2 linked regions of the Homo sapiens genome follow. The protein of the gene in region 1 interacts with the protein of each later gene in a biochemical or structural test. Each region holds a gene or a part of one and is shown on either strand. Other genes may lie near its edges.

Region 1 (3,746 bases):
CCTGCTCCCTTGCAAAGGCTTCTGGGAGCACCAACAATGAGGCACTCATTGGGATTGATCTGCCCATCTAGTTGGTCCACAGTAGTTACACAGAAAGGACAGACCCTTGGGAGAAACAAGCCCACGAAGGCCCAGTAAGGGCTTTTCTGATTTTTCTGATTTTCTAGCCAGACTCCATGGGAAACAGAAACCAAAATTTAAACCAAAGTTAGGAACACTGGCCTCTAAACAACAATCCAGGCTCCTGATACTCACCTCATTCCACTAACAAAGGAGAAATACCAAAGGTAATTACCCGTCCTAAGTGCTAGGGACCTGATTCCTCTCTTGGGCAGCCTTCCCTGAGTCTACCCTTTCCAGCTCCCACAACCCTACACCAGGTTTCTTGGTGGGAGCAATCCTGCTGCTCCTATTACTGATACAGCATTCGGTGAAAATTCCCCTTTTAGGCCGGGCGTGGTGGCTCACGCCTGTAATCCCAGCACTCTGGGAGGCCAAGGCGGGCGGATCACCTGAGGACACGAGCTGGAGACCAGCCTGGCCAACGTGGTGAAACCCCGTCTCTACTAAAAATACAAAAAATGAGCCGGGCGTGGTGGCGGATGTCTGTAAGCTCAGCTACTCGGGAGGCTGAGGCAGAAGAATCGCTTGAACTTGGGAGGCGGAGGTTGCGGTGAGCCGAGATCGCGCCATTGCACTCCAGCCTGGGCAACAAGAGCGAAACTCCGTCTTGAAGAAAAAGAAAAAAAATTCCCCTTTTAGTGTGAGCCTCTGAAGCCACTACTCTGGGGAGATGATAGGAGAGGATGGATTTGGACTCTGAAAAGGTAGTGATAACACATCTCCTTTTTTATTGCACTGCCCCAGTAAACTGAGTTGTACAAACAGAAAAAACTCGAAACCCTTCTGTCAACTTTTTTCGCGGGGAAGAGTCACGGAAACTGGAAACGGGAAATGGGAATTCACGTCTATCGCAGCCTCCTAGGTGGCAAACGCTTAGCCTGAACACCTCTTCAATAACCCTGTTAAGTAGACACGGTCATTATCCCCACTTACGGAGAAGAAAACCGCGGGTCGGAAAGGTCAAATATCTTATCCAGGGAACAGGGCTGGTAAAGCGCGGGGCTCCGATGAAATCCTCCAGTCTCCCGAGAGCCAGGAGCAAACTGGGTTTGGGCCGCTGCGCCCCGCACAGCCCAGACCCCAGCCATCAACTGCGACTGCGGCGGGCAGGCGGGAGAACTGACCTGAGGGGCGGAGGGCACGGCTGAGCGGCGCCCGACAGAAGGACAGGGGCCTGCTGTCCTGAGAGACGCGGCTGGTACGGCGTTCCTAAGAATCTTTTCGATCGCCGGGTTGTGGCCGCTTCCGCCCGCCAAGGGAATCAAATCTCCCGGGCCGGAAGGGGCGGGGACGCGGCGGGGGCGCGCGCGGCGCCGGATCCCAGGGAAGCGGACGCGCACGGCAGGCGGGGGCGCGCACAGTGCCGGGGGGTTCTCACCGGGGCAACGGCTCGCGGTCGCTGTGGAGCCGTGAAAGGGATGGCCGGGAGGTCCACTGGGCTGCGAGGGGTGACTTGAGGCCTTGGTCTTGCCCCGGAGGGCACGTGATGATTTTCCAGGTGGCGTGGATATGCCAAGTCTCCACAGAACCCAACTTTCTTACGTTCTCTTCCTAAAATTGACGTGCCCTCTGGCAGTCACAGTTCTCATTTTCGTCCTCCCTTGCCCACTGGCCGTTCTCCCACCCAGCAAAGACAGGAATACCTCCCCCTCTCCAAAATGTGTTGCCACGAGGAATAAGAACCCCAGTAGCTGAGACTACAGGCACGCGCCACCACGCCTGGCTAAATTATTTGTGGGTAGAGACGGGATCTCGCTATGTTGGCCAGGCTGGTCTCGAACTCCTGGGCTCAAGCGATCCTCCCGCCTCAGCCTCCCAAAGTGCTGGGATTACAGGCGTGAGCCACTGTATCCGGCCCAGAAAATCTTTAGACAAATTAAACTTTACAGAGTTGAATTGACCAAAGAATGAGTCCAAAATCCAGTAATCCCTGGAACCAAAATAGGTTCAGAGTGATTCGGGCTGCCATATGTTCAAATAACATTTATGGACAGAAAAAGGAAAATGACTTACAGAAATTGCAGTCAAGTATGGAAACAGCTGGATTGGTTGCAACTCAACCTCTGACTATTTTGAGCACTGTTTAAACAGTTGGCCACCTGTGATTGGCCAAAACTCCGCTGCTGTGATTGACTGAGACTCGCTACTTGTTACAAGGTTACAGTCTCTTTACACATTTACAATTGTAGTTGTCTACAATTCACTATGTATGGAGAAACTGTTAGGCCAGGTGCAAAGGCTCACATCTATAATCCCAGCACTTTGGTGGGGGGGCGGGGGCAGATCATTTGGGGTCAGGAGTTCGAGACCAGCCTGACCAACATGATGAAACCCTGTCTCTACTAAAAATACAAAAAATTAGCCGGGCTTGGTGGCGCGAGCCTATAATCCCAGCTACTCAGGAGGTAGAGGCAGGAGAATCTCTTGATTCTCTCTGCTGGGAGGCAGAGGTTGCAGTGAGTAGAGATCGTGCCACTGCACTCCAGGCTGGGCAACAGAGCAAGACTCCGTCTCAAAAAAAGAGAAAGAGAGAAAGAGAGAGAGAAAAGAAAGAAAGGAAGAGAAGGGGAAGGGAAGGGGAAGGGAGGGGAAGGGAGGGGAAGGGAAGGGAAGGGAAAGGAAAGGAAGGGAGAGAAAGGGAGAGAGAGAAAGAAATAAATTGTTAGTCTGAACTTAAAATGCATAAGGAGGCAGCTTTATGCTAAACTTAATTTAACATGGTCATCTGAATCTTCAGCAAATCATAATCTTTTTGCTGGTGGAGGGTCTTGCCTCCATGCTGCTGATTGATCAGGGTGGTGGTTGCTAAACGTTGGGATGGCTGTGGCAATTTCCTAAAATAAAACAACAATGCTGCATCGATGGACACTTCCTTTCATGAAAGATTTCTCTGTAGCATGTGATGCTGTGTGATACCATTTCATCCACAGCAGGACTTCCTTCAAAGTTAGTTCTCTGAAATCTTGCCACTGCCTTATCAACAAAGTTTATGGAATATTCTAAATCTTTTGTTGTTATTTCAGCAATGATCACAGCATCTTCACCAAGAGGAGCTTCCATCTCAAGAAAGCACTCTCTCTTTGCTCATCCGTAAGAAGAAACTCCCCATCTATTCAAGTTGGATCATGAGATTGCAGCAGTTCAGTCACATATTCAGGCTTCACTTCCAATTCTAGTTCTCTTGCTGTTTCCACCAAATCTGCAGTTACTTCCACGAGTGAAGTCTTGAACCCCTCAAAGTCATCCATGAGGGTTGGAATTAATTTCTTCCCAACTCCTGTTAATGTTGATATGGTGACCTCTTCCCATTAATCATAAATGTTCTTTTTTTTTTTTTTGGAGATGGAGTCTCACTCTGTCACCCAGGCTGGAGTGCAGTGGCGTGGTCTCGGCTCACTGCAAGCTCCGCCTCCTGGGTTCACGCCATTCTCCTGCCTCAGCCTCCTGAGTAGCTGGGACTACAGGCGCCCACCACCATGCCCGGCTAATTTTTTTGTATTTTTAGTAGAGATGGGGTTTCACCATGTTAGCCAGGATGGTCTTGATCTCCTGACCTCATGATCCGCCTGCCTTGGCCTCCCAAAGTGCTGGGATTACAGGCGTGAGCCACCGTGCCCGGCCAT
Region 2 (3,746 bases), on another chromosome or scaffold:
AATCCTTGTTATAAATTACTTGATTGTTCAGTGTATAGCTAAGTCTTACTTTCAAGCAGCAGCGATCGAGTATTATCACAGGTTAGATCCCTTCTGCTTTCAGCTCTTCCTACAGAAATTGTACTCTATACAAGAAGCCCAACTTTGGGGTTTATGGAAAGGTAAACCATAAGTTTTATGCTTATGTTGACAGAAGCCCTGGGTGGGGCCTCTGAATGCTGGTTCAGAACCTGGAGGGGAGATTTCCGTTCCTGGGTGAGACCTGTGAGGCTTATTCTAATTCAGGGCCGCAGAGGACACAACCCTGCTTCACTGCCCTATGTTTACCTTCCTGATCCTTACCTGTAACAAACCTGCACTCTCAGAAGCAAGGCTACAGAGGTTCTTTTCTTGGTCTCTTTCCCTCCCCGAGGTGGCCGGGGTCCTCCACGTCTGGCCCCAGCGTGTCCTCTGGGAACACTGGCTGCCTGGCCGGGTGTGCTGAGAGGCCGGCTGGGAAGGCCACACTGCAACGAACACCTACATTCCAGGTATTGGCAGACGCACTGTCGCACGGTTCTCGCTCTGCGGACTCACTTGTTGAGGTGAGATTTCACTTCCCTCCCGGTGGGTGGCAGCTAACGGATAAGCACACAGAGGAAACTGCAGCAAGCACCTCGTGTTTCCACACACAGAGGCGGCCACCACCCAGTGCCCCAGTTACGCTGGACACCTGGTTCGCTGTGCCTCTGCCTGTCCCAGCGGTGAGGGGTGTGGAGAATCCCTTGGTGGCTGTCCCAGCAGAAGAGCTGACTTCATGTGCTCAGGACACACAGTTGAGGCCTGAGTGGATCTCGTGGGCACTGACACTCATCCCCACGGAGCCTCCCACAGCACATCCTAAGCTCAGCTTGGTTCTGTTGTCCGGAGCCTCCCCTTCTGCCCCTCTCCTCTCCCCCTCACTTCAGACCTCTCAGGCTCTTCGTGCCTTCTGCCTGGACTGTTCTTTAATACTAAAGGTGAAATGAGGAATGAGAGAAAGTGCCTTAACTTCCCACAATAGAAGCTGAATGCTAGACAGAGCCTCAGGTCATATTCACCAAACAGAAGGTCCGAGGCTCTGATTGTGGAAAGAAGGGGACAGGGAGCTCAGGGAGGAGGGAGCTTTCTAGAGGGGAGAGAGGAGAGAGAAGGGTCTTCCATTTACCTGTGCCTTAGACTCAAGGAATTCTCTGGGGGTCTAGACCTCCTGCGGATGAGTGCCCAAGTTCCCACGAGGTACTCAGGACTCTGATCTCAAACCAGGAATTCCCATGCTGGCTTCAGTCCCTGAATCCTCGTGGTCTCCAGCTTGGGCAGTGGTGTCCCTGGCCACGGAATGGCTGTCATGTCATTGCATACCTCCCCAGATACATAAGCAGAGAAGACTGAGTAACGTCACATACCTCAACCAGTAATGTGTTCTTAACTGAATGTCCCAAACCCTTTGTAGCAAAAGAGAAATGAAAGAGAAACCTAAATAACCTTTCTTCGTCTTTCCTGGAAACCCCGCTAAACTAGATTCTCAATGTCATTTTGTGTCCTGAGACTTACATGATAAGAACTTTGTAATAAACCCAGTAAAGAGCTCCCTGAATTAGACTGCCTCATTTGGCAAACAGCTAAAGACCAGGCTGTGTCCTCCTGCAAAGGCTGAGGATGAAGACTGGTGCCTCCTGGTGTTACCTGGTCTGGAAGCTGTCTGTGATTTCTTCTGCTTCAGGTCAGGTGGCAGTAAGGATATTTCTATACCTGAGTCTCTCTCCACGAAACTTAAGAGGAAACTTTCAACAGGTCTTCTTGGCTTGTCGTTTGGAAAGACTCAGGTAGTTTAGAGCCCCAGGCTCTAAACTTTCTTCAGGTTTAGGACTCAGCCTGAAAAGAGGCTTAAAGAAGGAGAACCACTTCCTTATTACGCCCTGCCCCTGGCTTTTTAATTGAAGGAGGGGCTGATCTTTGCCCGTGTAATTTGACTCTAAAAGGAATTCTATATCCATTACCTAGCACTCTTCCTGCCCTTTGGGATAACTAGGTGGGTGTTCTGATACTTCTTTACTATCCTTATCAGTTGTTAGTTAAACAAATGTTTACTGACCGCCTAACATGGTACAGGTACTGTACACATATTTAATCTTTTTTTTTTTTTTGAGACAGAGTTTCACTCTGTTGCCCAGGCTGGAGTGCAGTGGTGCGATCTTGGCGCACTGCAACCTCCGCCTCCTGGGTTCAAGCGATTCTCATATCTCAGCCTCCTGAGTTTCTGGGATTACAGGCTTGCACCAGCACGCCTGGCTAATTTTTGTATTTTTAGTAGAGACAGGGGTTTCACCATGTTGGTCTCGAACTCCTGGCCTCAGGTGGTCTGCCCTCCTCGGCCTCCCAAAGTGCTGGGATTACAGGCGTAAGCCACTGCGCCCGGCCAACATATTTAATCTTAACAACATTGAGAGGCAGGCGTTACGATTCCCATTGCACAGATGAGGAAACTGAGGCTCAGAGAGGTGAAGTATCTTGCTACGGATCCCTATCAGTTGAGCTGAGATCCAAATCGTGCTCTTTCTGGCTTTACACTCTATCATGTCACCTCTCCTATGTGACTCAAAGATTGTGTTCAAGTGGAACCACTGGAAAAGTGTTCAAAAAGGAATCTAAGCACAGCCATAGTAAAAACCACAAAAACCCACTGAAAGGCCAAATGTCATAACTTTAGAGATGGAATTCCCTATTATATGAAATAGGAAACAGTTACATCTGATTTTATGCTCTTTCCAGAGTCTTAAGTGAAATAGATATATATGGCCATGCTTGAGATCATAAACCCTGGACCGCTGGTCAAACTGTGACGATGAAGGAAGTGTGAATAGTGAAAGGGGAATTAATGCTATTTTCGTAAAAGTGGGGAAGAATGGGTCATTTAAATATTAGGCAAACAGATCCACAAGAGACAAACAGATGGTAGTTATGGGAAAGTTAGATATTTAGTAACTCGAGGTGAATTTTCACCAGCAAACTAATATTTTTTGCACCAGTGAGGTCAATGTAGAGGGTATTAAAGAAATACTAAGAATGATTTTTCTCTTTTTATAAAAACTTGCCACCTTTTTTTTTTTTTTTTTGAGACGGAGTCTTGCTCTGTCGCCCAGGCTGGAGTGCAGTGGTGCGATCTTGGCTCACTGCAAGCTCCACCTCCTGGGTTCACGCCATTCTCCTGCCTCAGCCTCCCAAGTAGCTGGGACTACAGGCGCCCGCCACCAAGCCTGGATAATTTTTTTTTTTTTTTGTATTTTTAGTAGAGACGGGGTTTCACCGTGTTAGCCAGGATGGCCTCGATCTCCTGACCTCCCGATCTGCCCGCCTCCACCTCCCAAAGTGCTGGGATTACAGGCGTGAGCCACCGCGCCTGGCCAAAAACTTGCAACCTTTTTTTGGGGGGAGACGATGAGATATATTCACTGGAAACAATTCAAGAATAAACAGGGTCTGGCTCAGTGTCTCAAGCCTGCAAGCCCAGCATTTTGGGATGCTGAGGTGAGAGGATCACTCTGAAGCCAGGAGGATCACTTGAAGACCAGCCTGGACAACACAGTGATGAGACAAGAGTTCTTCAGGACTGGTTTGCAAGGTACAGGTCACAAAGACACCACTGATAAAATGACATGTAGTAAAGCAGCAGCCCAAATCTATCAAAACCAAGATGCGATGAAAGCAACCTCCGGTCGTCCTCACAG

Evidence for each region. The genes of interacting proteins can lie anywhere in the genome.
Region 2: the proteins of MELK (region 1) and BCL2L14 form a complex in vitro, tested with the Homo sapiens proteins (one study listed by IntAct).

Annotation. Positions count from the first base shown.
Region 1 is NC_000009.12:36,570,509-36,574,254, reverse strand, and holds the start of MELK (maternal embryonic leucine zipper kinase), read right to left. Parts: upstream 1,361-3,746; 5' UTR 1,248-1,360; exon of another isoform or gene 1,057-1,247; intron 1-1,056. UniProt on the Homo sapiens protein: Serine/threonine-protein kinase involved in various processes such as cell cycle regulation, self-renewal of stem cells, apoptosis and splicing regulation. Has a broad substrate specificity; phosphorylates BCL2L14, CDC25B, MAP3K5/ASK1 and ZNF622.
Region 2 is NC_000012.12:12,069,096-12,072,841, reverse strand, and holds the start of BCL2L14 (apoptosis facilitator Bcl-2-like protein 14), read right to left. Parts: upstream 1,904-3,746; 5' UTR 1,705-1,903; intron 1,440-1,704; exon of another isoform or gene 1,187-1,439; intron 1-1,186. UniProt on the Homo sapiens protein: Plays a role in apoptosis.